Linked DNA regions of Homo sapiens: regions 2, 3, 4 and 5 are each linked to region 1. Evidence: fine-mapped expression QTL. A gene starts in region 1. Each other region holds a variant in brackets. All regions are shown on one strand. Distances are between the middles of the regions. Region 1 holds the start of TTC9 (tetratricopeptide repeat domain 9). Region 2 overlaps TTC9 (tetratricopeptide repeat domain 9). Region 3 overlaps TTC9 (tetratricopeptide repeat domain 9). Region 4 holds the start of LINC01269 (long intergenic non-protein coding RNA 1269). Region 5 overlaps LOC107984686 (a long non-coding RNA gene).

What was found.
Region 2: its variant is fine-mapped to the expression of TTC9 in pancreas (GTEx, PIP above 0.99).
Region 3: its variant is fine-mapped to the expression of TTC9 in lung (TOPMed, PIP 0.98).
Region 4: its variant is fine-mapped to the expression of TTC9 in monocytes (TOPMed, PIP above 0.99). The same link has a PIP of 0.9 or more in aorta and whole blood.
Region 5: its variant is fine-mapped to the expression of TTC9 in neural progenitor cells (Aygun 2021, PIP 0.91).

What each region holds. Positions count from the first base shown.
Region 1 is chr14:70,638,923-70,645,138 of GRCh38, forward strand. It overlaps TTC9 (tetratricopeptide repeat domain 9), which reads left to right and starts at 2,994. Exons shown (of 3, transcript NM_015351.2): 1 at 2,994-3,613. The coding sequence starts at 3,208. It overlaps TTC9-DT (TTC9 divergent transcript), which reads right to left and starts at 2,376. Exons shown (of 3, transcript NR_110071.1): 1 at 2,086-2,376. RefSeq lists enhancers at 1,889-2,068, 2,169-2,428 and silencers at 2,899-3,048, 3,269-3,458, 3,479-3,548.
Region 2 is chr14:70,660,129-70,666,344 of GRCh38, forward strand. The region is part of intron 1 of TTC9 (tetratricopeptide repeat domain 9); the gene reads left to right. Among named protein-coding and RNA genes, the nearest start is that of TTC9, 21 kb to the left of the region's middle. RefSeq lists an enhancer at 5,598-5,757. The variant C/T (reference allele first, on the strand shown) is at 3,828.
Region 3 is chr14:70,667,890-70,674,105 of GRCh38, forward strand. TTC9 (tetratricopeptide repeat domain 9) reads left to right here. Exons shown (of 3, transcript NM_015351.2): 3 at 3,187-6,216. The coding sequence ends at 3,266. Among named protein-coding and RNA genes, the nearest start is that of LINC01269, 28 kb to the right of the region's middle. The variant T/C (reference allele first, on the strand shown) is at 2,340.
Region 4 is chr14:70,695,968-70,702,183 of GRCh38, forward strand. LINC01269 (long intergenic non-protein coding RNA 1269) reads left to right here and starts at 2,731. Exons shown (of 4, transcript NR_125769.1): 1 at 2,731-2,889; 2 at 4,028-4,233. RefSeq lists enhancers at 1,841-3,040, 2,447-2,948, 2,949-3,448. The variant T/C (reference allele first, on the strand shown) is at 2,560.
Region 5 is chr14:70,206,544-70,212,759 of GRCh38, forward strand. LOC107984686 (a long non-coding RNA gene) reads right to left here. Exons shown (of 3, transcript XR_001750796.1): 2 at 6,015-6,106; 3 at 1,673-1,697. It also overlaps the pseudogene LOC646548. Among named protein-coding and RNA genes, the nearest start is that of SLC8A3, 21 kb to the left of the region's middle. The variant A/G (reference allele first, on the strand shown) is at 2,797.

The DNA of each region.
Region 1 (6,216 bases):
CTATATACATTTTTAATTTATCAAATTAGAAAATATTTCTTAAGAGCTCACCCTTGACGTTGGCAAGGAGGTGGTGAAACTAGCATATTGCTGGTGGCAGCACAAGTTAGTACAATCTTTCTGAGAAGCAAGTTGACAATGTGTTTCTAGACTTTATTAAAACTTGAAATAATGTTTTGTAAGAAAAAATAAATTAGGAAAAAAATTTAAGTATAAAGATAGTTAAGAGCATAGATTCTGGAGCCAAATTTCTTGGGTTTAAGTCCCAGCTCCACTACTCATTAGCAGTGTAATCTCAGGCAAGTCTCTGTGACTTGGTGTCTAAAATGAGGATAACAATAGCACTGATTTCACTAAGTTATTATGAAGATTCAGTGGATTATTATATGTTAAGTGCTTAACCCAATGCCTGGCACAATGTAAATACTATATGTAAGTGATATCTATTATTTTTATCTCAGTGTTATTTATAATAGCAAAATCTTTCTGACTATAGAAGAATGCTTAAGTACACTATGGTACACTTACAGTGGAATTTTTTTTTTTTTTTTTTTTTTTGAGATAGAGTCTCCCGCTGCGGCCCATGCTAGAGTGCAATGGCACGCTCTTGGCTCACTGCAACCTCTGCCTCCCGGGTTCAAGCGTTTCTCCTGCTCAGCCTCCCAAGTAGCTGGGATTACAGGCAGCCACCACCATGCCCAGCTGGTTTTTGTATTTTTAGTACAGATGGGGTTTCACCATGTTAGCCAGGCTGGTCTTGAACTTCTAGTCTCAGGTAATCCACCCACCTCCGCCTCCCAAAGTGCTGAGATTACAGGCGTGAGCCACTGCACCCGGCCACTTACAATGGAATATTGTACAGAATATTAAAAATTAGGCTTTAAAAGAATATTTAATTACATATAATGTAAAGTAAAAAGCACAGGAAGCAAGCCTGGGGAACATTGCAAGACCCTGTCTCTACAAAAAAAATAATTAACCAGGGGTAGTGGTGTGCACCTATAGTTGCAACTTCTCAGGAGGCTAAAGTAAGAGGTGAGAGGATCCCTTGAGCCCAGGAGTTTGAGGCTGCAGTGAGCAATTATCATGCCACTGCACTGCAGCCTGGGTGACAGAGAAAGACCCTGACTCAAAAATAAAAAAGAAAAGAAAACAACAACAACAACAACAAACAGTAAATGAATTGTGTATATTGTTCCATACCACTTATGTTGGCTAAAAGAGCACTTTTTACAAATATAGATGCCTAGGAAACAACTGGTAGGAATTACATCAAAATATTAACAAAGAATACAACTGGGTGTAGACTGGGGGGTTCTTTATACTTTACTGTATTTTCCAAAGTCTCTACAGCAGTGTTTCTCACACTTTAATAGGTAAACAAATCACCCAGTATGCTCGTTAAAATGCAGCTTCTGGGTTAGTAGGTGTGGGATTTTCAGATTCTGCATTTCTGATAGGTTCTCCTGTGATGCTGATGATATTGGCCCAAGGTCTACATTTTGAGTAGGAAGGTTTTAAAGCAGCATATCTGAACCAATATACTGGTTAACTGAGACCCACCCTCAGAGTTTCTGATTTCTTAAGTCTGGAGTAGGATCCTAGGATTTGCATTTCTAACTGTTTCCCAGGTGATGCTGACACTGCAGGTCTGGGGCCAGCACTCTGACAACCGGTGCTCTAGAATCTTTCTTTTTCTTAACATTAAGGAAGGGAGGGCACTAAAAAATATGTCAGGCTTCTCCATTGACTCCAAAATCAAATCCAAACTCTTCATCCAAAAGCCCCCATAATCCAACCCCGTCATTTCCCACTACTTCTCATTAGGCTATAAAATCAAACCACTATGCCCTAAACACACCTGAGATTTCAAACATCAGGACTTCCGCTGGATTTCCTCACTCCGGCTATGCCACTTCCTTCTACTTCTTCATGCCAAATCCTACCCAGCCTTCAAGGTCCTCAAATGCTATTTCCTCCATAAAGCCTCCTGATCTACCACTACTCAAAAAGCTACCTCTCCCTCCCCCCCTCAGGGCTGCACAGCACTTTTCGTTCCTCCCCAATGACAGGCACCATCTGTACCTGGTCCAGCGACTCTACCGGTGGGTGGTGTATCTTCGCCTGTAGACTGGGAGTTTCTTGAGGTCAGGGGAGTGACTTGCCTATCTTTGCCTCTTAGCCTTAGCAGATCCCCAGTAGACAGCTGACACTCAGAACCGACCAAAAGAAGGAAGGAATGGGACCTCCTGAGGAAGGGCACAGAACTGTCCTGTAAATGGAAACTAGACCGGACGCACGCCAAGCCGATGACCCACAGTAACAGGTGTTCTCCATCTCTGATGTCTGTGATTCATCCTGCACAGCTGCGCGCACACAGCACACGCATACACAGGCTCCCAGAATACGGCGCCCCACACGCTGTACCGCCCGTCGCGTTCTGGACGCCCCGGCGACCACACACACCGAGACACACCTCAGCGACAACCTGGATCCACAAAAAGGAGGCCCTGCCCCCTTAAAAAATACTAACACCTTACTGCAAAGAACTAGCAGCTACGGCTTGCGCCTGCGCCCCTTGTTCCCTGCCGCACCTTTTCTTGTAGTTAAGAAATCTATTTCTGCACGCATTTCGTCGCCGCCGCCCCCCATCCCTACACGCACGCACACACACACACACACACGCACACACACACACTCCCCTTCCCCTACACCTACCCCCCTCCCCCCACCTCCTTTCAGACTAGGCGCGCCTCGCAGAGCGGGATTGAATGGGAAAGAGCGGGGCCGTCTTTGTCATTAATCCTCCCCTCCTTCGGGCAAGCCAAGCTTCTTCCGGGTCAGCGACCATCCCCGCCACCCCACTCGGGGCCACGGTCCCCCCGCAGCGCTAGTCCCGGGCCCGCGAGCACCGGCCCCCGCCACCCGCAGGTTGCGGAGGGAGGAGGGCGGGAGCGGGCGGCGCGGAGCCGGGAGGCGGGGGAGGGGCCGGCGTCCGAGGCGGCGGCGGCGGCGGCTGGAGCAGCCTCTGGCAGCAGCGGGGAGAATGGGAGTGCGGGGCGCCAGACCGCCGCGGGGTGTCACGGCCGCCACGAAGCCTGCGAGGCGCGGGGCCGGCGCCCGCGGCTTTTAAACCCGGGAAGGCGCGGCGGCGGCGGCGGCGGCGGGCAGATCGCGGCGCGCACCAGGCGCCGGGGCGGCGGCCGAATGGAGAGAAAGGGCTCGGCGGCCGGGGCCAAGGGGAACCCGAGCCCGCCCGCGGCCGGAGAGGGGCAGCGGCCACCGCCGCCGCTGTGCGTCCCGGGCGGCGGCGGAGGAGCCCCAGCGAGGGGCCAGGTCGGGGCGGCGGCCGAGCCGGCCGAGCTCATCCGACGAGCGCACGAGTTCAAAAGCCAAGGGGCGCAGTGCTACAAGGACAAGAAATTCCGTGAAGCCATAGGCAAATACCACCGGGCGTTGCTGGAGCTGAAGGGGCTGCTGCCGCCCCCCGGGGAACGGGAGCGGGACTCGCGCCCGGCCTCCCCGGCTGGGGCCCTGAAGCCCGGCCGCCTCTCGGAGGAGCAGAGCAAGACGGTGGAAGCCATCGAGATCGACTGTTACAACAGCCTGGCAGGTGAGCCGCGCCGCGCCCCCCGCGCCGCGGTCCCCGTTCTTCGGCCCGGTCCCTCCGCGGACCACTGCGGCGCTCCCGCGGTGCAGATTCTCCTGCTGTGACTGTGTTGCTCTGGGGAGAACCCGGGAGGGAGGCGCTTTGGAAAAAGTGTGACTTTCAGGATTATGCCTTTCAAAGGCCATAATCATCTCTTGTCCCTTCGCTAGCATACATCGTAAATCTCACCTAGAAATGACTGGAAGGGGACCCAGCTGGCCTGGCTATGGCTGCTGCTGCTACTGCTCACCAGTGGACCTGGGTCCAAAATGCGGAAGCAGCGCCCGGGGTGGGCCCCCGCAGCCACCGCTAGCCCAGCTTTTTCCTGCGGGTGGGTCCCAAGGGAGGCCACGCACCTGTCTGCTCTCCTTAGGTAGCATGAGCACCAGGATTGGTCCTCGCCTTTTCCCCAACTAACCGCATCCCTGTAGGTAAGATCTTCCCCAAGTTTTTTGGCCCCAGTAGCAAAGGGGAGTTTGACACCATGCCTTCAGCATCTTGAGCAAAATGGATTCCAGAATGCCACTTTCTTCTCTCTGAGCTCTGCTGGGGCTCCCGGTTGCCAGGTGAAGATCTCTATCTCAAAAGAAGCTTGGTTCATGGTTGGGCTTGAACTATGCTGCATTCTCCCTCTCCTCCCTGCCCGTTTCTCACTATGTGTAGCATCAGTCCTCACGCCAGCTGGCTGCTAGGGGTGAAGGAAAAGGGGGCCCTACTCTTGGGCAAAGAAGGTGTACATTCCAACATTCCCTTTGGGGATAAGAGCCAAAATCAGGGATTTAAAAATTGTTTAATTTAGGCGCAGGAATATTTAAAGTCTCTTAAAAAAAGAAGAGTCTGGCTCTTGCTAGGGCCTTCCTGGGAGAAGGTGGGAGAGGTTGGCAAAGGCAACTTAAAAAGCATTCTCTCCTCTTCTCTTGCCCCATTTGGTGAGATTCTGGCATGGTCAACCTTCTCCGACCAAACAAAGGGCAGTTCCTCCTAGTTCCTGACATGTGAGGTTGCCTAAACTGTCTATGGACAGTTAGAGCAGGGTAGGGGTGGAAGAGTGACTGGGTGTGGCAGGGAATGGTGAATGTGTCTGAAGCCGAGGCAGTGGTGGGGGAGTAAAAATAAATACTGGCAATTCTGCTCGGTTCTTAAATGCAGATCTCTCTGTTCCCTCTGAGGTTTCTAGTACCAGCCTACCTCTGTCTTCCCAGAATGCCATGCCCAGTCTCATCTTTGATCGGGTAAAACCCAGGCTACGGAGGCACTTTGTAAATTGTAAAGTACTTTACAGACTTAAAGGATTAATAGAGTAGTAGTAGCAGCAGTTGGAGGAGTGGTGGTGCTAATAGCAATACTAGCAGTAATAGTAGCAGATAAAATTGTAGTACAGCAAAAATGGACTCTTTCAATCCATTATAAGATACAGCTTGAGTCCTTTAGTTCCTGTAAGTCTTTGGCATACTGTCTGCTGCCCCATGAATAGTTAAAGGGCAGAGCAGCCATGGGTGGAGGACGAGGCACTGTGGATTGCTAATGCGGTGACTTTGGAGTGGTAATGGAATCTTATATTTAGTCAGTATTATCCATGGACATTCTAGGGCTGCCAACCAGTGGCTAGCACTGCCTGCCCTCCACCCCAGACGTGGTTACTTTTCCATGGTGAAATCAAAGATGTGTCCTTGGTCAGGCCAGCCCAGTCAGGGCGGGACTGAAATCTGGATAGCTCCACCACTCCCATCCTCACCTCACACACTGGAAAACTTCAACGGTGAGAGAATGGAAAGTAGCAATAGCAGATATTCCCCCTCTGCTGCCTTCTCCAGTGCTCACCACTTATATTAATAATTAATTGTGTGTGCTGTTAGGCATCCTCCATACATTGTCTCTTTAAATCTTTATAATCTATGTAAAAGAAATATGATCATCAGTTTTGCAGAGAAAAAGCTCAAGGCTCCGGAGCCATTCTTCTCCAAAGGCAATGTTCTTGTCATCATACTTTGATGCACAAAGTCAGCATCCTCTGGGCCTCTGTCTCACTTGAGCCCAATTTCAGGTGGGCTCCAAAGCCTTGCACTTTGGAAATTCCTTTGGGAGATCTCAGGCCTGGTAACCAGGAGAAAGAAATAGAATACTTTGATTCAAGGCTCTAACGGGCTATTTCCAAATGTCAAGTCTCACAAAAGAACGAAAAGAGTGATTATAAGCAAAGCAATTTTGTCAAAGCCAAAATTCAGCTAGGAGGATGGTTCAACTTAAAAGTCACTCTGGGGCTGGGTGCGGTGGCTCACTTCTGTAATCCCAGCACTTTGGGAGGCCGAGGCGGGCGGATCACGAGGTCAGGAGATCGAGACCATCCTGGCTAACACGGTGAAACCCCGTCTCTACTAAAAATACAAAAAATTAGCCGGGTGTGGTGGCGGGCACCTGTAGTCCCAGTTACTGGGGAGGCTGAGGCAGGAGAATGGCATAAACCCGGGAGGCGGAGCTTGCAGTGAGCCGAGATCGTGCCACTGTACTCCAGCCTGGGCGACAGAACGAGACTCTGTCTCAAAAAATAAAAAATAAAAAATAAAAAA
Region 2 (6,216 bases), 21 kb after region 1:
ATCCTTCTGCTCCTTTTCCCCATCTCCTTGGCCGGGGTTCTTATTCTCCAGGGGAATATTTCAAATCACTAACAAGAGAAGTATCCAAATGTCACAAGTTGACAGCGTAACAGAGAACAATTATTTGCACACATGTGCAGATTTCCAGCTCTAGGACTTGGCCATCTGATACCTGTCTGCCCTTGTGGGTAGTGGGTGAAAATCTACTTTAGATAGAAAATCTACTTTAAATTACGCTGTAGCTTTGTTTATGTACCACATATTGTATATAGGACTCAAGATGGAAATTTTCTCCAATTCATGTACACATTGCTGGGCAAACCATATTTGATAAGTGACTTTCTAAAGAACTAGTATTTATGAGAATCCATTTTTGTCCCAGCACTGTGAGAAGCATGTAATGTGCATTAATTATCTCATTTCATCATCATAAGCGTTCCCCCAAAGTTCCTATTTAACATGGGAAGAATAAGACCCAGGGTGATCATATAACTCGCCCTCGGGCCTGTGCTAGTGAGTGGCAGAGCTCAGATTCCAGCTCAAGACTGCATCTCTAGACCCAGCATTAGTCTTCAGCCAGGGCACCCAGAGCTGGTACAATACTGTTTGCCTATTTGGTTTGGTTATGATCTATACCAGTCATTCAATATTCTTAATATCAGCTCTGTCCAGATCCCAAACTTCTTCCACTTTACTACTATGTCATTGCTTCTTGAAATAAATTTGAAAGCAAATCAAATAATTTGGCAAACTTTTGGGAAAATTTTCCCCTAGGAACCCAATGGCCATTTCCTGGGCCCATCTCACAAAGCAGTGACTAGCAAGGTATATTAGTTTCCTAAGGCTGCTGTAATATCACACACTGGGTGACTTAAAATAACAGAAATTCATTGTCTTGTCATTCTAGAGGCTAGAAGTGAAACATCAAGGTGTCGGCAGGGTTGGTTCCCTCTGAGGGCTGTGAGGAAGAATCTGTTCCAAGCCTCTCTCCTAACTTCTGGTAGCCCCAGGCACTCACTGGCTTTGTAGATAGCCGTCTTCCTAGATCTTATTGCATCATCTTTCCACTCTGTATCTGTCTCTGTGTCCAAATTTCTCCTTTTTATAAGGACACTAGTCAAATTGGATTAGGGCCCATTCTAACTATTTCATTTTAACTTGATCATCTCTGCAAAGACCCTGTCTCCAAATAAAGTGACATTCTTAGGTACTGAGGGTGAGGACTGTAACGTATCCTGTACAAATGGATACGGTGCAACCCCAAACAGTGAGGCAGCCTTGTAGAGTAGGTTCTTCCTTCTCGCTGCTGGCCCCAGATGGGTCTGGTCTTCCTTCCATTTAGCCCATGTTTCCCTTCTGTTCAGCAGGTAAAAGCAAACTATAGTGAGTTAGCTATAAGAAGAAAACCAGTGATTGCATGAACTTGTTCTTCCTTTCATCTGGTTTCCCTTTATCTCATGCCAGTGGGTGGCGTTTTGCCCTGCATGCACCAGGAAACACAAAAACAAAACAGGTGCCAGAGTGAGGAGAACTCAACATGCTTTAGCCTGAGGTCTCAGCGTGGTTGCTGGGGGGAACATCACACTTAGGATTTTCCGTCTGTGTGCATGAGTGTCGCGGGGGCTCTTTGAGTAGCTGATTCTCTATTTGCTAAACACGACCCCTCTGTGGGCCTCAGAAGGCCTGCCAATTCTTTTCGTAAGATCACACCCTAACCGCCTAAGGCTGGCAGTGGAGGAATCTGTACTTGGGAGGGGTGGTTGGAGATTTGCAGCTTCAATTCTTGTCCCCCAGATTTGCCTTTCTCTTGTAAGTTCACTGGCCACCTCTGCTATCACCCTGTTTGGCTCAAGGAAGGCTGTTTCTCCTCTAGCACTTCTTCCCACGCCTTGATAGAGGCTTGTCTTCATTCTCCACAATTTGGCTGATTCCAGGCCACTGCATTTATTCAGCCTTTTCAGAAGACCCAAAGGCCAGAAAGTTAATAATATTTCTTTCAATGGAGCCTCTAGATATGGTTGTCTGAGAGCTCAGGCCCTTTGCCATGCATCTTCCACCCTGTACCTCTTCTGCTGCCAAGTGACTACATCTTTGAATCCAAGTATATCCACAGAGTCCAGGCCAGGCTCCCTTGCCAGTCAGTCCAAAACCTACCTTTCCAACTCAACAGCCTCCTCTGCTCATGATGACTAATGGTGGAGATGTTTACTCCCTTCAGGGAAGGTCTCACCCCAGTGCCATGACTTGGGAAGACCCACATCAGAACATAATCCAATCTCTATGCCAAAAAAAAAAAAAAAAAAAATCCACACAGCAGGAATCTAATTGTTGTCTTACAGAAGCCCTCTTGATCACTGCTTTACCAGTCTGATTGTCCTCCCCAACAAAAGATACCTGACCTTGATTAATAGGGAGAAAGGAAATCCTTTTGAAGAGGAGCCAGTGAAACAATTTTGTCCTTCTATTAAGTGGCAAACATTTGTATTTAGAGGCTGTTAGATCTGAAAGGACGGTAGAGATCATTTAGTGAAATTTAGATCTCTCATTTTGCAGATGCCCAGAAAGGGAAAGTAATTTTCATAATGTTGGCTAGTGGCAAAGATGGGACTAGAATCCAGCTCTTATGATTCCTAGTTCAGTGCTCTTTAAAATACCGATGCATGCCAAATGGCAGAGTATAGAGACTGTGACATGATAATCCTTAATTCAAACAGAGACCAGGTCACCACAACATGGAGAAACACTTCTCGACAATCAGGAAATCCAAAATGACAATAAAGATCTCCCAGATGAACGGCTCTACCTTGCAAATGTGGACAGCAGAGAGAAAATATTGCAGAAATTCCCTGCTGCTGGTCACCTCTGCCTCCTGGATGCCACTTACATTGATCTGTTTTTCCTGCTTATCCGCCTCCACTCTGGTCACCTGAGTCACCATCACTTCATCATCCAAATCCACTCTTGCCTCACAATGAAGTCCCAGATCTTCTACGTGGACCAGAAGGGTCTCTGTGTCATGGTTTCTTTCTTTTCCAGCTTCACCTTTTTTACCCTTCCCTCTGGTTCTCTGCTCCAACCTGGCATGCATGGCTTCCCAAACTTTCTGAAATAGGCCATTCCCCTCTCGCTCCCTCTCTTTCTTGGCTCTGCCTTGAAAAGTCACAGTTTCACCCAGATCAGTGATTCCCAAACATGGGTGATTTTACCACCACCCCACCACCCAGGGAATACTTGGCCATTTCCAGAGACATTTTTTGGTTGTCACAAGTGGCATGTAGTGAGAAGAGGCTAGGGGAGCTGCTAAGCATCCTGCAAGGCTCAAGACATCCTCATGTAACAAAAAATCATCTAGTCCAAAATGTCAATAGTGCTGAGGCTGAGAAATACCCAATCTTTAGATCCCAGCTATAATGCTACTTCTTCCAAGAAGGCCTCCCATTATACTTTAGATCAAGGTAAGGCCCCTCCTGCCTGGGTATGCTCCTTCTCTACCTTTGTCCTTCATAGCAGTTAGCCCACATGTGAATATTTGAGATAACATGACCTCTGCCCTCCCTGCCCATCTGTTAGCCCCAGGTGGGTGGGGGGGCGGGTGTCAGCTCATCAGCTGATCCCACTGCCCCGCCCAGTGCCCAGCAGTTAGGCATCAATTTTTGCTTGTTAGCTTTGGAACACAGCAGAAGGGAGTTTCCACAGATGACCTCTCTTTCTCCCCAGGGGCTGTGTGGGTTTCCGATGGCTTCAAATGCATCCCCACAGACACCCCAGAGGTCAAGTGCACAGTCTTGGAAGCCTGACAGAAGTGGGCTGATATCCTAATTCTACCC[C/T]CTTCCAGCTGGGTGACCTTCAGCAAGTTACTTCATTTCTCTGGAACTCAGTTTCATCATCTATAAAAGAAGGATAAAAATAGAACCTGTTTCATGGAGTTGATGTGAGGATTAAAAGACATAGTGTATGTGAAGTATTTAGCACCTCTGACACCAGAGAAGGGATTAATAACCATGAGGAGGACACACTGTGGGGCGATGCCACTTATCCTGAGGTCCACTGCAACCCCAGGTCCTGGCTAATGGCTACAGGGATGGGGAAGGAGCAATCAGGAGGCAGCCAGTCCACGTCGTCTTAACTTCCTCAGCCCTCACACGTGCCTGCTGTCATCCCATCTTACCTATCCCATGGGCTTACTAGATGTACCAGTAGCCACCCACCCAAAGCAGAGAGGTGCCTAAAAATCACCTGCAGGTAGCGCTGAGGCCAGCCTCCAGCCTGGCTGTCACCCCCTCCACCCCTGGATTCCCTTAAGAGTCCTGGCCTGGGCCGGGTGTAGTGGCTCACTCCTGTAATCCCAGCACTTTGGGAGGCTGAGGCAGGCAGATCACCAGAGGTCAGGAGTTCGAGACCAGCCTGACCAATATGGTGAAACCCCGTCTCTATTAAAACTACAAAAATTAGCTAGGCATGGTGGCGGGCATCTGTAGTAGTCCCAGCTACTTGGGAGGCTGAGACGGGAGAATTGCTTGAACCCAGGAGGCAGAGGTTGCAGTGAGCCGAGATCGCACCACTGCACTCCAGCCTAGGCAATAGAGCGTGACTCCATTTAAAAAAAAAAAAAAAAAGAGTCCTGGCCTAGCACCCCAACTTCTTATCCAGATTCTACCTCTTGGCCCAGCTATTTCTCCATCTTTCTGGGCCCTGTCTGTGGTGTCAGCTGAGGCTCCACACCCTATAACCAGCCTAGCCCTGCCTCCCTTGCCTCCCCCAAAGTCTGAACCCTGGTCCACAGCCAGGTATGCCAGTTCCCACCGGATCTGCAGGGGAACTAGAAATATTTTTACCAAATAAGTGCCAGAAATTGATTGCTGTGGTTCCTTTAACCCTTTGTGGGAAGGGGGAGGCTTCCCCATTTCCAGGCCTCTTTGCTTCCCCTGCCCCTGTCACCACCATTTTATGCATTCAAAAACTGTTATTTTATTTTATTTTTATTTTTATTTGTTAAATGGTCCTTTTCCTAGACTGCCAGGGTCAGCAAACAGAAGTGTCTGTTCAAAGAGGGAGGGCTGGACGGGAAGAGGGCTGCTAGGCCCGGTCAGAGAGGACTTCAGGCAGGGAGCGTGGAAGCTGTGGACAGGACAGCTTTTAGCTCTGGGAGCAGGTGCTGGAGCCAAGTCACACACAGGTAGCAGTCAGTGAGGTTCACATCCAGGAACCTTTTTACAGAAACCCCTCTCTCTCTCTGTACAGCTGTATAAGCACCAGCACAGGCTCCGACAACATGCAGGTGAGGAAGGGGACAGAAGGGCCTAAGATCCCACCATGGAGAGAGAGGGAGGAGAGGGGAGGGGGGCTTGTAGCATCAGCTTATCAGAAGGACCCCCTGGTGCACCAGAAGATTGTAGTCCTGGGTGAACAAGAGCTGCCCTCGGGGGTTAGCAGCCTGTTGCTTCTGTTGACTTGGCTTTCTGCCCTGCAGCCAGTGAAACCTGACAGGTCAGTTTCTAGATCTGGGCTGATTCTCTTTCACTTCCTGGTTCTCATACCTTCATCTTGACAGTCTGTGTATTTCTCCTCATTCTGTGAAAGAATGGAGTTTTTTGGTCCTAAATGCTCAAAAAAAATCTGGTCTCTTAAAAAATCTCAGCAATTCTGATACCTGGGAAGTTATTTAAGGGGTCAGAATGACTGACGTTAGACCCCTGAAGATTGAAATCAGTGACTTGTCTCTATCCTGAGGTGTCTTCTGTCAGTGTGGAAAAGTCTGGGCACAAAGAAGGAACAGAGCATCAGCATTCTCCCCCAGCCACCCAGCCGGGTTGTGAACAGAAGCACCAGTTTTGCCTCCTAAGTCTCTGTTTTTATTTGCTTTGAAGAAGCAGACAGGTGCCTTTTTCCTGTCTCTTTTTTTGTACTCCCTCCGAAGTATGCAACATACTTTGCCGTTGGTCAATGCCTACTAGATATTTGAGTGGTTAAATGGAGGCGAGGTGGCTCAGCAGGGTTGGGATTAGAGGGAGGTGCCTAGGGCACGAAATTTCAATCATTCTTCAAGGCCATTTAGTCATCCTCCAGGCGTGTCATCACTCTAGTCCCAGCCCTGTGGCTCCCTGTGGCTCAGGGCTGGTAAGGGAAAGCTCAAAGGGACATGGTTTACTCAAAGATGGCTGTTTGTGGGATGGGGAAGCTCTCCACCATGAGACCTGCCTGCCATAGCTTCCTCTT
Region 3 (6,216 bases), 29 kb after region 1:
TAAGAGGAGCACACAGCCCATGCATTTGCCTAGGGTTTGAGTTCCAGGGAGCACAGGCCCCTCTTCTCTTCAAATAGAGTATAGAATTCCTCATCTTTTTCAACTCAGAATCCAGCTCTCTTCACTTATTCAACAAATATATATATATTGAATTCATACTATGTGCCAAGATTTGTGCTAAGCACCAAGGGAATCAATGAAAAGACACTGCCGCTACCCATGAGGCGCTCACATCTGGTTGATGACACAGAATACAAACAGGCAAATTTGATGCTAAGCCCAGCACCTTTCAGGAAGCATGCTCTGACTTCTCCAGTCAGATGCTATTCCTTAGGACATGTGTTATCTATAGCATTCACTTAGATCATATCCACCAGTCATTCATTCATTCATTCCACAGATATTTATTGAGGGGGTACAATATTGCTAGGTATATAGTAGTGAACAAAAGAAAGTTGTTGCCTTCAAAGAGCTTATATTATAATGGCTCACTGTCTATTGTAAGTGGGAAAAAAAAGTGTGGAGAGGGGACAGAACCCAGGGAGGGGCTCTCTACCAAGGGATGGCTAGAAGTCAACCAGTAAACAAGCAAACAAATAGTAAACAAATGAAATACTTAGTAGTAATAAACGCTGTGAAGAAAATAAAGCAGAATAAAGAGATCAAGAGTAAATGGGGGCGCTGGGCGTGGTGGCTCATGCCTGTAATTCCAGCACTTTGGGAACCCAAGGCAGGTGGATCGCTTGAGCTCAGAAGTTCAAGACCAGTCTGAGCAACATGGTGAAACCCCATCTCTACTAAAAATACAAAAATTAGCTGGGTGTGGTGGTGGACACCTGTAATCCCAACTACTTGGGAGGCTGAGGCAGAAGGATCACCTGAACCTGGAAGGCGGAGGCTACAGTGAGCCAAGATGGCACCACTGCACTCCAGCCTGAGCGACAGAACAAGACCTTGTCTAAAAAAAAAAAAAAAAAAGGAGTAAGGCTGGGCGCGGTGGCTCATGCCTGTAATCCCAGCACTTTGGGAGGCCGAGGTGGGTGGATCAGGAGGTCAAGAGATCAAGACCATCCTGGCTAACATGGTGAAACCCCGTCTCTACTAAAAATACAAAAAATTATCTGGGCATGGTGGCACGCACTTGTAGTCCCAGCTACTCAGGAGGCTGAGGCAGAAGAATCACTTGAACCCAGGAGGCGGAGGTTGCAGTGAGCCAAGATTGCGCCACTGCACTCCAGCCTGGGTGACAGAGCGAGACTGTCTCAAAAAAAATAAAAAAGAGTAAAGAGGGGGGAGCTATTTTAGACCAAGTGATCAGAAAGAGCCTCTCTGAGGAAGTAACATTTAAACAACTTTGACTTGATGTTGCTATTTTTGTTGTTTATATGGTTAATAATTTTTCTTTTTTCAGACAGAGTCTCGCTCTGTCGCCCAGGCTGGAGTGCAGTGGTGTGATCTCAGCTCACTACGACTTCCGCCTCTTGGGCTCAAATGATCCTCCCACCTCAGCGTCCCCAGTAGCTTGGACTACAGGCATGCACTACCATGCCTGGCTAATGTTTTTTATTTTTTGTATAGATGAAGTCTTGCTATGTTGCCAGGGCTGGTCTTGAACTCCTGGGCTCAAGCAATCCTTCTGCCTCGGCCTCCTAAAGTGCTGGGATTACAGGCATGAGCCACCACACCCAGCCTTTTTTTTTTTTTTTTAAACTCAATCTTCCTTTCAAAAGTCTTTAAAAAACTTTAGAATCAAGTCACAAATGTCCAAATGTATACTTTTTTTATCTTTTTAAAGAACACCTTGTTGTTGATTTATTTTCCGTACATAAATCGTGTTCCACCAACTGTAAGCAGCTTGAAGACTAACCATTGGACTCATTCAATAGAATTTTCTGGAGCACTGCTATCTGCCAGCACGGTTCTGGAGGATACGCCTGGCATTTTTTAGCATGATATAGTATTCATTTCTACTTCCAGAAGTAACTATTCCAGGCAGCCCTGTCACTCTTATGTTATGGTGTGTGTGGAACTTAGCAGTTGTTCCCTGCCATGCCATCCTCACTAATAACAGGAACTGGGAAGAAATGCCCCAGTTTTGGTGAGGTGGTCATCTGACCCTGCTTATAACGACAAAAATAAGACAATAAAGCAAAGTCATTTTAAACTCTTCAAGCTTAAAAAAATTACATTAGACTAATATTTGTTGATCATTGTTTTAAGCACTTTTAGACTTACCTATTTTGGGCTTCAGAGCAATTTCATGAGGCAGGTATTACAGTCCTCAGGAGAGACAGGCTTTGCAGCCAGACACACCATTTACTATGTGTCTCCTTGGCATC[T/C]GACTCAATCTCGCTAGGTCCCTATTCCATTTTGTCACAGTGAGGAGAAGGATACATACCTTGCGGGATTGTATTGAGGATTAAATGAGATCATGAAGGTTAGAAACCTGGCACAAGGTTGGCATTCAAAAATGGAGCTTGTTGGCTGGGCGCGGTGGCTCACTCACGCCTCTGATCCCAGCACTTTGGGAGGCCAAGGTGGGCAGATCACCTAAAGTCAGGAGTTTGAAACGAGCCTGGCCAATATGATGAAACCCCGTCTCTACTAAAAATACAAGAATTAGCTGGGCGCAGTGGGATGTGTCTGTAATCCCAGCTACTGAGGCAGGAGAATTGCTTGAACTTGAGAGGTGGAGTTTGCAGCAAACCAAGATTGCACCACTACACTCCAGCCTGGGCGAACAGGACAAGGCTCCATCTCAAAAAACAAACAAACAAAAAAAAATAGAGGTTGTTTCTTGCAGATGGTACAGGAGGCTCAGAGAAGTTGGCAACTTGCCTGATGTTAAACTCCAACTGGGGTCTCACTAAACTAACTGCGCCGGCTGGGAAACCACTGGGATACGCTGCTGCATAGAAAGAGGGAGAGAAATTCTCTCTCCTCTCCCACCCATTCTCTCTCACATCCCCTGGGTCATGCCAACCTGTCCACATTTGCTAAGGGGAGACAGTGAAGGAGAGGGTCGACATCTAGTTGCCCTCTCAGCCACCATGGATAGGCAGAAGGGACCTTGGTTGAGTGAGCCTGGCCTGTTGGATGTCTGCAGACACAGCCTTTGCTAATTCCTTGTAAATGTGATAGTTGCCCTCACCTGGTGTTCCCTAAGGTTTATTTCTCTCCTCACAGACACCAACGTGATTCGGTATATCCAGCTGACGGAGATGAAACTCAGCCGATGCTCCCAGAGAGAAAAAGAAGCCATGTAACCAGGAAGCAGCTCCAGAGCTGCGCCCACGCCTGACCGGGGACTTCCAGGCATCCCCTGGCAGAGAGCCCCGTCCTGGATTCTGTCCCTTTCTCCCCACTTCTTCTGGCTCCTCATTTTTCCTCCTGTTGCACCCCAGCTCTTTGTCTCCTCCCAGTACGAAAAGGAGAGATGCAAATTTGGAATCTGGTAGGTCGCCCAGACAATGGAGACATCCTCTCCTCTAGCAGGTCAGCGACTGAGAGGGGCCTGACTTCTGCTGGGACAGCTGGAGAGGAGTCTCATGGGCTGGGATGCTGTTGTGGCTTTGACTTTGGCCAGTGCTTCTGACAGAGGCGGAGCCTGGCAAGTGTACCATCCCACAGGCAGCAGGCACACAGCCCATGGGCTGGATCCTTCCACACTTTCCTGACAGACCAGAACCAGAGCATCTCGAGGCAACTGTTAGAAATCCAGGGACGAGACAAACAGAGAAGCGCTGGTGAAGCCAACATAGAGACTGTCAATGTGTACACTGGAGTTCCCACCCCCACCCCCCACCCGTCACTTAGCCCCTGCCTCCTTCCCCCACTCGTTGTCTTGGCTTGTGCTTTCTCCTCTCCCCATCGGGGATCCGAGACTCTGCCAGGATTCACATGCCACTGAAGCCCACTCAGTGCCCTCTGGTGACCACACATACCATTCCCCCGGACTCCCACCCAGCAGGCAGCTGTGACCGCAGAAGGGCAGGATGAAGTGGGCCAAGGTTTGGGACAGGTTGACTGTGTAGGTGACAGGGAGGGAAAGATGATGGCCAGGGGAAAGAGCATCGTATAGGCTAGGGGATTGAACTGTGGACTGATTCAGTGTAAATAAAAACAAATTAACAGGTAGTAGTTCCTGTCAGTTCTGTTGGAAGCAGCCCACTCCCTCACTTTTACTCCTTCCTCCAACCCTCAATCAGAGCTACTTACAGCCAGGCAGGATGGGGCTTTCCCCAAAGCAATTGGCCGTTTGTCCAGTGGCAGACAATGGTGGCTACAGCCTTTGTGCTTTTAAGAGTGGGCTGGGATTGTGGAGACTGCCCAGGGGCTTGGCTTTGTCAGAACTTGTACAATCTTCTTTTGATGAAATTATCTGAACTCAACATCTAGCACATAGAATGTGTTCAACAAATGCTTGTTGAATGAATAAATTATGACTGCAGACTGGCTCTCCTGCCTTAAACTAATTTCATCCCAGCCTAGTCTCCTGATGTCTGTGCTCGTTATGCTATGCCATGTTGCTTCAGTCAAACAAGAAACACTTACTGAGGGCATATTGTTTGCCCATCATTGTGCAATATGCTGTGGGACATGGGATGTCGTCTCAGTCTTCAAGGAAATGGAAGGGTTAAGAAATGCATATGAGATTATTACCAATGACACCGTTAATTTATATGATGCTTTAAAATTATCAGAGCACTTTCATGTATTTTTCGTGTGACTAGTGAAAAAGACAATGTTGTACAAAATTAAAATATATACAGATGCAATAATGTGAATAGTTAGGATTTATTAAATGCATTATCTTCAGATCTTTACATGTATAATCTCATTTCTTTCATGCAGTTACTCTGGGATACTGTTCCCATTTGATGGGTAAGAATATTGAAAACCAGAAAAATTAATTATCCCAAGGTTGCATGGCCTTTAGTGGCATAGCTAGGATTTGAACCAGGCCTGCCTGACTCCAGAGCTCTGGCTAGTATCTATGCTATACTTAGTTGCCTCTCTGTAAGTATAATATTGGGCAATTATAACCATTTGAGAACAGGACAATATGTATTAACCTGAAAAGTGTTCATGATGTCAGTGATAGTACATGGCCTCCTTATGTATTTACTCAAGGGCCCCAAAAGACCAGAGGCCAGAATCCCTAGTAGTCAGAGCAGTGACAGGTCAGAAAAAGGCAGCTGAGGTCCAATAGTTATGTCTGTGTATTGCTCATTCTACTTACTGATGGAGCCAGCATGTATCTCAACAACTCACCTAGCATTCATCACCCATCCCCAGCATTGGGAAAGGGTCACAATTAAGACCGAAAGGAAACACAAAGTTAAATATGGGTTAATTATGTAAGCAGATGCCCCACCACGGCAGGATCCAATCACAGCCGAGGGGCCCAGAAGAGAGCAGCGTAAGTTATATTCACATAGTTCCCCAAAGGCTTTCAACGGGGGCTACAGGAAGGTGCTAGAAATATTGAGGGGCCTGCCATTACTCACCTAGAGCTCACTCTCTGGAGAAGAGGAAAAGGAAGAAGCTATTTCAGCTGCCACATTCTCCCCAATCCCTACTATATTATGCTGTCTTTCCTCTTCCTCCTAGCTGGCTTTACATGACCCTAACCCAAAACTACCCTATGGCCCCACACGGGAATGTGTTCAAACGCCCCGACCCCCACCCCCACCCCCATTCCCAAGCCTCCAACTTAGAACGTTTGTGATTTGGCAGATGGTTTGTTAGGATCTGAAGGATGAAGAGAAGGGTAGAGGTCACCTGGAGAATGAGTTCAAACTGCCAGGGTCTTCCCTTGGTCTTTGTGCGTCAGGAAGGACTCCGAGTAATTATTCCCTATGCAGAGACAGGAGAGAGGTCTTGTTTACATGAGTGTGCTGGGGCAGGGCTGGACAATCCAGGATATGATTGTAGCCATCCCATGTAGAAAGATCAAAAACCAGAACGAAATGAAGACAGCCTCTCAGAACCTCATAGAACAAGCGTCCAGGTCATCTGCTTGTTTGGTGACTTAGATATACAGGCTTACTGGAACTCCATTCACTGTGACCTGAAGTTAAATAATCCCAAAGAGAAAAAGCTACCTGGGGTATTGGTTGATGTTTGGGGTGATAGGGCTGAATTTTCTGTGCATTTGTCCAACAAAGGCTTTAGAGCACAAAACCAGGTTCATTCTCCCTACCAAATCTTCAG
Region 4 (6,216 bases), 57 kb after region 1:
TCCCCTCATCAAGGAAACTGTGTACCCCTCAGGCAGGCTTGCTCCAAAGATGCAGTCAAGCCAGGCAAAGACCAAGGAAAAGAGGGTCAAAGATCTCTCTGGGCAAATCCATTAGTGACAGCTGATCCCTTGGAGCCACTTGAAGTCTGCAGCTCCTGAAGCTCTGTTTATTAACTCTGTTTATTTCTCCAATTTGTCAAGTACTGTCTGCAAGCTCCAGCTTCCCTCATAAGTGCTCAGCTTCTATTCTGCCTCGCAGGCTTCACCAATTTGATTAGCATACTCTGCACTCCATCTTTCAAGTCGTTAATGAAAATACTGATGAATACTGGGAGTTATTCAGGTCCCTGGGAGGCCTCTCCTCCATCCCTTCATCTTTTTGCCTGGCAAGTAAACTGGAAGGGATGAATCCTCTTTTCAGATAGTCTTTGCCCACTGTTCAAGAGCTTTTGTCTAATCTTTTCATTCATTCATTTATTCAATCACTCATTTATTCATTTGCTAGGGCTAGAGGCTTAGCACAGTCCCTGGCACATGGAAAATGCTAAACAAATGCAAGCTCTTAGTGTTATGAGGTGCTGTGGAGAAACAGAGATGCACAGGATAGACCCCAGCCCTGAGCAGTAAGAATGGGAATAAGAATTACAGCTGCCAATTTTGAAATACTTGCCAGATACTGGGCTACGTACCGTCCAGACAATATCCAGCCCAGGCCAGGTATCATCCACCCTACAGAGGCATTTGTTGGTAATGATTAAAAGGGAGGATTCTGGCCAGGCGTGGTGGCTCACGCCTCTAATTCCAGCACTTTGGGAAGCCGAGGTGGGCAGATCACTTGAGGTCAGGAGTTTGAGACCAGCCTGGCCAAATGGTGAAACCCCATCTCTACAAAAATTAGCCAGGCATGGTGGCGGGTGCCTGTAGTCCCAGCTACTCGGGAGGCTGAGGCAGGAGAATTGCTTGAACCTGGGAGGCAGAGGTTGCAGTGAGCTGAGGTAGTGCCACTGCACTCCAGCCTGGGCAATAGAGTGAGACTCAGTTAAAAAAAAAAAAAAAAGTGAGGATTCTAAAGTCAAAATTCTTATTCTAGCTTTCCACTGACTGGCTTCTTTGCCTTAGATTCTCCCTCCGTACAGTAAGGGTACTATTAGTTATTTCATAGGGTTACTGTGAGGATTTAAATTATTAAATAATACAGAATTGGTACTTGGAGCACTGCCCAGCATATAATATGCACTGAACAAATGCTGGCAATTATTATTATTATTTGATGTAATACAATTACCCTTTATGAGGTAAGTGTTATTATCAGTGTTTTACCAACAAGAAAGCTGAAGTTTAGGAAGCCTGAGTAATTTGCCTAAAGTCCTACAACCAAATAATGGAACTCGGGTCCAAACCCAAATCTGATTCCAAATTCCATTTGCTTTATTACTGTATGCTAGAAAGGAAGAAAACATGCATACATACATACATAATTATTTTTACAAGACAGAAAAGCAAATGAGACTGTAGAGCACAGAATATTTTCATGGCGCATAGTAGATTCTCAATGAATCCAGCCAAATAATGATGATGTTGATGATGTCAGTAATGATGATGACAAAATTCTAAAGTGCCATACTGAAGTTTTAAAAAATTGTTTTAAGATGTCACAGGACAGAGAGAGATCATTTATGAAGAGAGGAATAGTTGGAGACTTTCCTGGAAAAGGTGGCATTTGCAAAGGCCTTAAAGGATGACCATGAGTTGGACACAAGGAGAGAAGAGAAAAAGGCACCCGGGTAGAGGAAACTGCAGGAGCAAAGGCTTACAGACATGAATGCTTAGGGTGTGTGTGAAAAGAAAGAGCAAGAAGTTCCACTGGACAGTACGTGTTATATGAAAGAAAATAGTTGGGACTGAGCTGGAAAGGAAGGAGACACACCCTTATTGACACATGAGGCCTTGCCCAAAAGACTGGTCAAAGCAGAGAGATTTCTCACACTTCAGAGTCTTCTGAAACTCACATTGGAGAAACAGCCATATGAGGGATTTGGAGATGAGGAATGGGGTTTCTTCAATATTCAGGCAAGAGTAAGTACCACAATGCTTATGCAATAAAGCTTCAGTTTGAGGTGAGGGTCAGTTTGAGGTGAGGGCTAGGCAGGGCTGACATTCAGCCAACACATGTGTATCAATATAGGTTGTTGAAAATATTAAACTGCTTTTCCTCCAGGCTGGTAAATGGCACTACCCTGAACCACCCAAGGCCCCTTCCCCTGGACTCCAGGACCTCCTCGACATCCTTGCATAAAAACATTAATTTCTGGCATTATTTTGATAATCACCCCTGGAGCTAGGGGACTTGGCTTGAGGATACTTTTGCATAGCATTTTACTTAACATTGAAAAACACAACAGTTTTATCAATAAATGGGTTGCAGAATGTAAAAGCAAACAGACCAACCGCTACACTCTGGCCTCAGATATTCCTCAAGCTAGATCCTTCTGGGGAACTAACTCTTTTCCTGCTGAGTCACTGTGGCTGCAGCCCTGCCCTTCCATGTGACTGTGTCAT[T/C]TGGCATTATGGTTCCTCCTGAGCCCAAGGGAACTACAAAGGTCTGTATCAGGACACTGGGCATTGCCACTGTGCTAGGTGCACACACCTGACTGATCGTCTTGTGGGCTCCCGCATTTCCTGTTGCTCCAGGCATCAGATATATCCCTGGGATCCCTCCATTAGCTTGGCAATGCTATGGAAGTTGCCAGAAAAAGAATCCTAAGGAATTGGTTCTTGGCAAATCCTAAGGAATTTGGCTCAGGCATTTGTCTTCCTAATGAACTGGTGGGGAGGTAGCTGTGTTGGTACATCATCTCCAAGGCAGGATCCTGCCCTCTGAAGCTTGAGGTGAGAGCGGGGACATGGGGGGTGGTGGGGAAGCTTGGGACCTGCTCTTCCCTCTGCCATGAATTTTCTCTTTCTGCCCAAAGCAATGGCTTCTCTTAGCCCTGCATTTCAATTTGATTGCTCTCAGTCCCCACGGTCACCTTCCCCCACCCACAGCTCTTCACAAAAGACAGCCAAGAACAGGGAGGAAGGGATCCTGAGGCAGAGTCCCTTTGAGCCCAATTGAGGCTGGGGTCCCCGGGCAAATCTGCACCCTGTGCAACTCCTGGGACTGCAGATGTGAGTGATGCCCCAGGATGAACGGTGCCCCAAAAGCCTTGAGCGGGGGAACCCTGTGTGCCATCTGCCACTTCTCCCTTGGGAAGATAGCCCCACCACTGAGCCAGGGAGCACCAGGAGGAGGTCCTGGATCTCTAACATCTGTCATCCTGCTGGGTAATGATACTGTGTCTTTCATAAAAGTCAGAACTAGCCTGGGCAACATGGAGAAACCTCATCTCTACAAAAAAAAAAAAAAAGCTGGGCATGGCAGTCATGTACCTATCAGTGCCAACTACTTAGGAGGCTGAGGTGTGAGGATCGTTTGAGCCAGGAGGCAGAGACTGCAGTGAGCTATGATGACACCACTGCACTCCAGTCTAGGAGACAGAGTGAGTCCCTGTCAAAAAAATAAAAATTAAAAAGAAAAGCTTTCCATCCCTCCCTTTTAGAGAAAGCAAAGAAGACACATAGAAGACGGTAATTCACACACCTACAGGTGTGGCTGTGGTCACAGGCTTTGCCCAGGGACCTTTCCTGGGAGGGGAAAGAAAAGCCTATGAATTGCATTGAGGACCAGAACAAGGGCACAGGATATGGAGGGAGGTGACAACGAAATGGTTTTTATTGGCAATCAGTGCTTCACACACTGCGGTCCCTCCTACCAGTCCGCTAGCAGGTTCCTAGGGAAGCAACACGTCTTCTATTTGGCCATGCACACACCCCCACACCCCTCTACAGCAGGGTGCACTTTCTGTTCTCCTGCATGGCTGGCTTGATGCTCACCCTGCAGCCCAGTGACAGGAGGAATGACATCACGCCTGCCTGTGCAGAACCTACCTTCCATTCCCTATCTCAACTGTGCTCTTCTTCTCCACAGTGGCTCCCAAAGTCTCAAGCCCACTGTGCTGATTTGAGCATTTGGCTCAGCCTTTTCTGGTCATCACCAACGTTCACCTGGCCATGCTGATGGCAGCACGCATGGATCTGGCCATTCCCACAGCCTGGTCACCCCATGGTGGCCCTTGATTGAGCTTGCCATGGCACGGAAGGGGGCCTCTCCTACTCACCGATCTCCTTATTGAGGTACAGCACATTCATTTGTATTCATATGGTAGTAATACCTAATTTTTATAAAACTCCTCAAGTGCCAGGCACTGTCCAAAGTATTTACATACATTACTCATTTAATCCTCACAATCACATGATATATACTGTTAGCCCCAATTTACAGATTGAGGAAACTTGCCCATGGAGACTTTTGTTAACATATTCAAAGTTGCATGTAAGGAACAGGGCCCAGATTTCAACCCAAGCTACTAAGTTCCCAAGTGCATGTGTGTTCCAAAACATCATGCCATGAGGCTGCTGAAGATACACATGACTGGTATCCAAATCCTTCCTAGGAATAGGCAGTGATGCTATGGGTGGAGAAGCATGGAGGAGGCAGATCCTGGAAAGAGGGTGAGCAAAGGGCACAGAAAGGGGACACTGGGAGTCAGAAGCCAAAGGGGAACTTGGACTTCCCTCCGTTCTCCAAGGCCTGGCTCTCTTTGAAGATAGTGTGGGATGAGAGAGAGAACAGAATACTAAAGAACAGAATGAGAGCAGGTGAGCAGTGGGCCCAGAGGAGAGGAATGCACACAGGCTGAAGGGAGAGAAGAGACAAAATGGACATAGCACGTCTCACAAGCCAATGGGAGGAGCTGGGAACCCAGCATTAGCTGGAAGGTGCTCACCTTCCCTCTTGATGGTTGACTCAGTGCCGACACAGACTTTAGCTGTCAGCCTGAAAGCAATCAGCTCATCATTGCAGCCTCTTTATTGTCTAAATTTTTCTGAAAGCATGAGAAGCCACTGGCCTTTCAACAGGGCTACCGAGGACCTGGGGAAGAGAAGGGCAGGGAAGCAGAGACAGAGGCCAAACACAAGTGCTTCTGCCAGCAGGGTTCAGAGCACATCTGGCAACCCCAGCTCCCAGCCCTGAAGCAGGCACCAGGCTACAAGGACAGACATAGACCAGGGACAAGGAAAAGGAAGGGCCAGCCCCAAAGCCCTTGGGATGCCTTGTCAACAGGCCAGTGTCCTTTGGAAAACACTCCAAAGGAAACAACAAATGTGAGACAAAGGATTTCCTTCCTCTTCCCTCATGTCGGAAATTCCCTGAGTTTCTTTCCTGGACCACTTGTCTGTCTCTATAACAATCCTACACACTGGTCAAAGTTTTTAAGGCCAAAAGTTTTAAAGGAAATGGAAAGAGAAGTAAGATTGAAAAGATGTGTCAGAGTCTGTTGCTGTCACTGTGGGAGCTCACTCTTTCTTGTCACAGTGAACAAAGCTGAGGAAACCAAGATTTTTCCATGCATTTGCTGGGGTTGGGACCCATGGCCTAGAACTAGGGGTCAGCGGAAAACAGAGCATGCCCATTAGACAAAGGGGTTAGCGAGAAGGAAGATAGAAGCAGATGCCAATGGGGCAGGGAGCTGTAGGGAAAAGAGGGGGAAGAGGGAGGGATGGGGGGAAAAGGAGGAAGAAGTGGAGGAGGAGGGGATGAGGAGGAGAAGGAGGAACAAGAGGAAGAGGGGAAAGGAGGAAGAGGAGGGGGGTGAGAAGAAAGAGGAAGGAGGAGGAAGAGGAGGAGGAGGAAGAGGAGGAGGAGGAAGAGGAGGAGGAAGGGGAGGAGGAGGAAGGGGAGGAGGAGGAAGGGGAGGAAGAGGGGATGCACATGGAGAAGAGAAATCACCACTGCCTTGTCTGCCTTCACTTCTCCCTGCCTCTGGCATCCTCTACCTGCTGTCAGTCAAGTTCTTGCCACTGGCACTTAACTTGTCTTCCCTTTATGGACCTCAGCCATCCACCCCTCCAGGTCCTTCCTGCCTCTCACCTGGACCAGTCTGTGGCTTCCAATAATAGTCTTCTTAGCTTCAGTTTCTCCCATCTCCAGCTCATTCCTCTCACCACTCCAGGTTTAGCTTCCTAAAATATTATTTTCACGACATTATTCTCTATTATTTTTCATAACTCCCTCTTTAACTTCCATTTCCCAATTTGGTGTAATGGAAGGAGCCC
Region 5 (6,216 bases), 430 kb before region 1:
TTTTTTATAGCTATTTTCTTTTTTTTCTTTTTTTTTCTTTTTTTTTTTTTTTGAGACGTAGTCTCGCTCTGTTGCCCAGGCTGGAGTGCAGTGGCGTGATCTTGGCTCACTGTAAGCTCTGCCTCCCGGGTTCACGCCATTCTCTTGCCTCAGCCTCCCGAGTAGCTGGGACTACAGGCACCCGCCACCACACCTGGCTAATTTTTTGTATTTTTAGTAGAGACAGGGTTTCACTGTGTTAGCCAGGATGGTCTCGATCTCCTGACCTCGTGATCTGCCCGTCTCGGCCTCCCAAAGTGCTGGGATTACAGGCGTGAGCTGCCGCACCCGGCCTTTATACCTATTTTCTCTAGAGTTCTGCCCTTGGCCTTCTTTTCTCCTCACTTTACACACTCCCTGGGTGTTCTGGCCTGTTCCCGTGGCTCAAAAACCACCTAGATGCTGAAAGGTCTCAAATCTGTGTCTCCAGTCAGCCTTCCCTCCTGAGCTTCCCATGCATATCTCCAGCTGCCTCTGAGATTTCTCCTTCAAATATCATGCCAGCTCCCCAGGTTCATCAGTGCTCCATGCCCTCCAAACATGTTTCCTCTCATATTTCCCAAGTCAGTGCTGCCATCTTTCTAGTTCCTCAAGCCAGACACCTGGATGTCATGCCGGACTCCTCCTTCTCCCTCATCCTTTATCCAATCAGTAAACAAGGCCTATCTGTTCTACCATGGAAATAATTTCTCTGGAGTGGCTCACAGTCTTCCAACAAAATCTTTCTAAACATGTGTCATAATTATATAAAAAGTAAAAGGATGTGTTGCTGGATGTTAGATGAGGATGCCTATATGTTTTTAAGAAGGTCACTAAATGTCAAGTTTAACCTATGACTAGAAAAGAATACGTATGTCAGAATCTAGGGAAAGAAGGCAAAGAGGATGCTGTAACACTGCAAGCAGGGCATTCTTCTTATTCCATGACAATCATTGTCTATCCACTGTTGGCAAAAACAGGCTACAGGGGCAGCCCTTTCTACCTTTCTGAAGTATCCCATAGACATTTCATTTAGGGAGGCACACTTGGGTTAGAAGAACACAGCAGGAAGAGGGGCTTCAAAGGCATAAAATTCAGGGCTCCTCTTCAAGAGAAATGCTCTCTTCCACAGAAGATGAGCAAAGATCTTCCATCCCTTTGAATGTCCTCATGGTCATGGTGCACTGAGAGGGTGGGGAGAGGGTAGGATAGCCAAACTGAGACAGAAACCTGGATAAATAGGAAACGTAATCACCAAGAATAGAATGACAAATCTCTCCATTGGTCTAAAATGGAGGTAAACTGCTTCCTGATCTTGTATGATTTGACTTAGAAAATATATAACAATTATTTGACATTTACGTAGCATTTTACAATTTTAAATTATGTTCATAGATATCATCTCCTTAGAAACTAATAATAATCCTCAAAGGTAGACATTCTTTCATTTGACAGATAAGGAAACAAAGGCTCATAAACTATTAAGCAATTTACTTAAGAGTACATGGTTAGTGGAGTGTTGGGATCAGAACCCCTGGCTCTGACTTCCAGCTCAGGATTGTTTCTTCCATTGTACACTCCTTTCTGCAGAGGAGTCTTGCAGTCTTTGGTAGTCTTTATTTGCTCAAAAAAAAAAAAAAAAAAAAGCATTCCCATTGGTAAGAGGTTTCAATGCAGAACTGCAAGAGAATAAAATATTGTCATAGTGCCATGTTAAGTGCCTGGGATGCATAAAACTCCACAGAAGTTTCTGCAGCTGCAAGGATGCCATTGAGGTCTTCTCCCATCACTGCCCTTGGACACTAGTAATGGTCTCTGAGGTTCAGAGGCTAGGTCCAGATCAGAAAGAATATGTTTGTGTCATGAAAAAGAACACAAAGGAAACACTCAGAAAAAGGCTGGGGCTCTAGAGGGATTCCCCAGAGGAGAAGATGAAAGAAATGAACTAGACAAAAACAAAAGAAAGTGAGGTTAAGGACAGGGATATGTTGTTCAGTAGTGATGACACATCATGGTGATGAGAGAGGGAGATGAAAGGTAAGTGCATCTCCAACACCAGACTTAGAGAGGTGGTAAAGCTGCTACAAAATCCCCTTCATAAGTGAGGTGGGGTGGGGGATGATTTATTCATTCATTCATTGATTACAGAATTTTCTTTTTGAAAGCCAATTATGCAGGCAACCTCAGAGACATTACAGGTTTAATTCAAGATCACAACAATGATCAGAACAAAGAGAGTTGCACAAATTTTTTTTGTTTCCCAGTGCATGTAAAAGGTATGTGTGCACTGTACTGTAGTCTATTAAGTGCAAAATACCATTATGTCTTTTTAAAAGTACATATCTTAATTAAAAATACTTCATTGCTAAAAAATGTTAACAATCACCTGAGCCTTCAGCAAGTTGTAATCTTTTTCACTGGTGGAGGGTCTTGACTCAATGTTTATGGCTGCTGACTGATCACAGGGGTGGCTGCTGAAGGCTGGGGTAGTAGAGGCAATTTCAGAAAATAAGACAACAATAAAGTTTGCCACATCAATTGACTCGCCTCATGAAAGATTTCTCTGTAGTATACAATGCTGTTTGATAGCATTTGCTTTGCAAAACAAAAATGTATTGAATTTATATTATATGTATTATATATGTATATATTATATATGTGTATTATATATAATATATGTGGATATATTATATATATGTGTGTATACATATATATGTATATATATGCATGAGGTTTGGACATGTGTGTGTGTGTGTGTGTGTGTGTGTGTGTGTGTGT[A/G]TATGTATATACCTAGAGAAGAGAGAAAGTGAGATATTTTAATGACAGGAAAACTTTTTTCAAAATTGAATTCAATCCTCTCAAACTGTGTCACTGCTTTACCAACTAAGTTAATGTACTATTCTAAATCCTTTGTTGTCATCTCAACAGTGTTGATAGCATCTATACCAGGAGTTGATTCCATCTCAAGAACCACTTTCTTTGCTCCTCCATAAAAAGCAACTTCTCATCCATTCAAGTTTGATCATGAGGTTACAACAATTCAGTCACATCTTCAGGCTTCATTTCGAATTCTAGTTCTCTTGCTATTTCCACCATATGTGCAGTTACTTTCTCCACTGAAGTCTTGAACTCCTCAAAATCATCCATGAGGGTTAGACTCAACTTCTTCCAAACTCCTGTTAATATTGATATTTTGACCTCTTCCCATAAATCATGAATGTTCTTAATGGCATCTAGAATGGTGAATCCTTTCCAGAAGGCTTTCAACTGATGTTGCCCAGATCTGTCAGAGGAATCACTATCTGTGGCAACTATAGCTTTATGAAATTTATTTCTCAAAGAATAAAACTTGAAATTTGAAATTACTCCTTGATTTATGGGCCGAAAATGGAAGTTGCACTCACAAGCATGAAAACAGCATTAATCTCCCTGTACATCTCCATCGGAGCTCTTGGATGATAAGGTGCATTGTCAATGAGTAGTAATATTTTGAAAGAAATCTTTTTTCCTGAGCAGTAGGTCTCAATAGTGGGCTTAAAATCTTCAGTAAACTGGCCAGGTGTGGTGGCTCACACCTGTAATCCCAGCACTTTGGGATGCCGAGGCAGGCAGATCACCTGAGGTTGGGAGTTCAAGACCAGCATGATCAACATGGAGAAACCCCGTCTGTACTAAAAATACAAAATTAGCCAGGCATGATGGCACAAGCCTGTAATCCCAGATACTCCGGAGGCTGAGGCAGGAGAATCGCTTGAACCCAGGAAGGTGGAGCTGCGGTGAGCCCAGATCATACTACTGCACTCCAGCCTGGGCAACAAGAGCGAAACTCCATCTAAAAAAAAAAAAAACTTCAGTAAACTACAATATAAACAGATGTGCTGTCATCCAGGCTTTCACTGGCAGAGCAGATTTAGCATGATTCTTAAGGGCACTAAGATTTTTTGAATGGTAAATGAGCATTGGCTTCAACTTAAGTCACCAGCTGCATTAGCCCCTAACAAGACAGTCAGCCTATCTTTTGAAGCTTTGAAGCCAGGCATTGACTTCTCCTCTCTAGCTGTGAAAGTCCTAGGTGGTAAGGCTATTTCATCTACATTGAAAATCTGTTGTTTAGTGTAGCTACCTTCATCAATAATTTTAGCTAGATCTTCTGGGTAACTTGCTGCAGCTTCTCCATCAGCACTTGCTGCTTCACCTTATACATTTTGTTAGGAAGATGGTTTCTTCCCTTAAGCCTCATGAACCAACCTCTGTTAGCTTTCAACTTTTCTCTGCAGCTCCCTCATCTCTCTCAGGCTTCCCAGAATTAAAGAGAATTAGGGCTTTGCTCTGTAACAGGCTTTGGCTTAAATAAATTTTGTGGTTGGTTTGATCTTCTATCTGGACCACTAAAACCTTTCCATATCAGCCATAATGATGTTTTATTGTGTTCACTGGAGTAGCAATTTTAATTTCCTTTAAGAACTTTTCCTTTGCATTTGCAACTTGCTAACTCTTTGAAACAAGAGGCCTAGAATCTCAGGTTTTAACATGCCTTCCTCACTTGGCTTAATCATTTCTAGCTTTTAACTTAAAGTGAGAGATGTGCAGCTCATCATTTCACTTGAACACTTAGGCCATTGTAGAGTTACTATATGGCCTAATTTCAATATTGTTGTGTGTCAGGAAATAGGGATGCCCAAAGAGAGGGACAGAGATGGGAAAATGGCTGCTCAGTGGAGCAGTCAGAACACATACAAAAATTTATCAATTGGGTTTGCCATCTTACATATATGCAATTTGTGGCACCCCAAAATAATTACAATAGTAACATCAAAGATCACTGATCACAAATCACTATAACAGATAAAATAATAATGAAAAAGTTTGGAATATTGCAAGCATTACCAAAATGTGACACAAAGACACAAACATGAGCACAGGCTGCTGAAAAAATGATGCAACGGCCATGCACAGTGGCTCATGCCTATAATCCCAGCATTTTGGGAGGCTGAGGCAGGAGGATTGCTTGAGCCCTGGAGCTTGAGACTAGCTTAGGCAACACAGTGAGAACTTGTCTCTACAAAAAATAAAAATAAAAAAGTTAGCCAGGTGTGGTGGTGCACAACTGTAGTCTCAGCTGCTCAGGAGGCTGAGGTGGGAGGATCACTTAAGCCCAGGAGGTTGAGGCTGCAGTGAGCTATGATAGTGTCACTGTGCTCCAGAACTGGGTGACCGAGTGAGACCCTGTGTCAAAAAAAAAATGATGCCAATAGACTTGCTTAATGCATGGTTGCCAGAAAGCTTTAATTTGTAAAAAACATAAACCTACAAAACGTGATAAAATGAAGTGTGATAAAACAAAGTATGTCTGTATATGGCAGTGTTCTAGTTGCCCAGATACATAAGTAAATAAGAGAAAATTCCCACTGCATCATGCTTCTAGTATAATGGAGGAGAGGGATAATAAACAAGTAAAGTAGGGTATATTTTTATAAAACTTCAGATAAAAATCAGTGATATGAAGAAAACTCAAGCTGGGTATTAGAGAGTGACTGCGGTGGGATATGTTTTGGTGGCAATTTAGATTGAATTTTAGGGAAGCTACTATGTACTATGTGGCCCCCAAATTCATATGTTGAAGCCTTAATCTGCAATGTGATGGTATTTGGAGGTATGGCCTTTAGGGGGTGATGAGGTTTAAAGGAAAACATGCAGGCAGAGCCTCCATGATGGCATTAGTGCCCTTGTAAGGGGATGAAGAGGCTGAGCAATTTCTCTCTCTTCTCCCCATTTGAGGATACAGCAAGAAGGCATTCCACAGAAAACCAGGAAGACGGCCCTCACCAGAACCTGAATAGGCCAGCACCTTGATCTTAGACTTCCCAACCTTCAGAATTGTGAGGAAGAAGTATCTGTTGTTAAGCCACCCAGCCTATGGTAGTTTTGTTATAGCAGCCCAAAGTGACTAAGGCAGAAGGTCTCTATAAGGAGGTAACATTTGAGCCATCACTTACATGAAATGAAGGAATGAACCATGTGCAGATTTTGGGGCCAGATGAGCAGCCAGTGTTTTTGAGGAGCAAGAAGAAGCTGTCTTTAACAGAACCTAGCAAATGATAGAGAGAGTGGTGAGAGATGATGAGGGAAGACCTGCACCTCTGGCTGCTGGTAAAGCTGGATAGCCTATAATCCCAGAGGTTTTTAGCTTGATTTCAT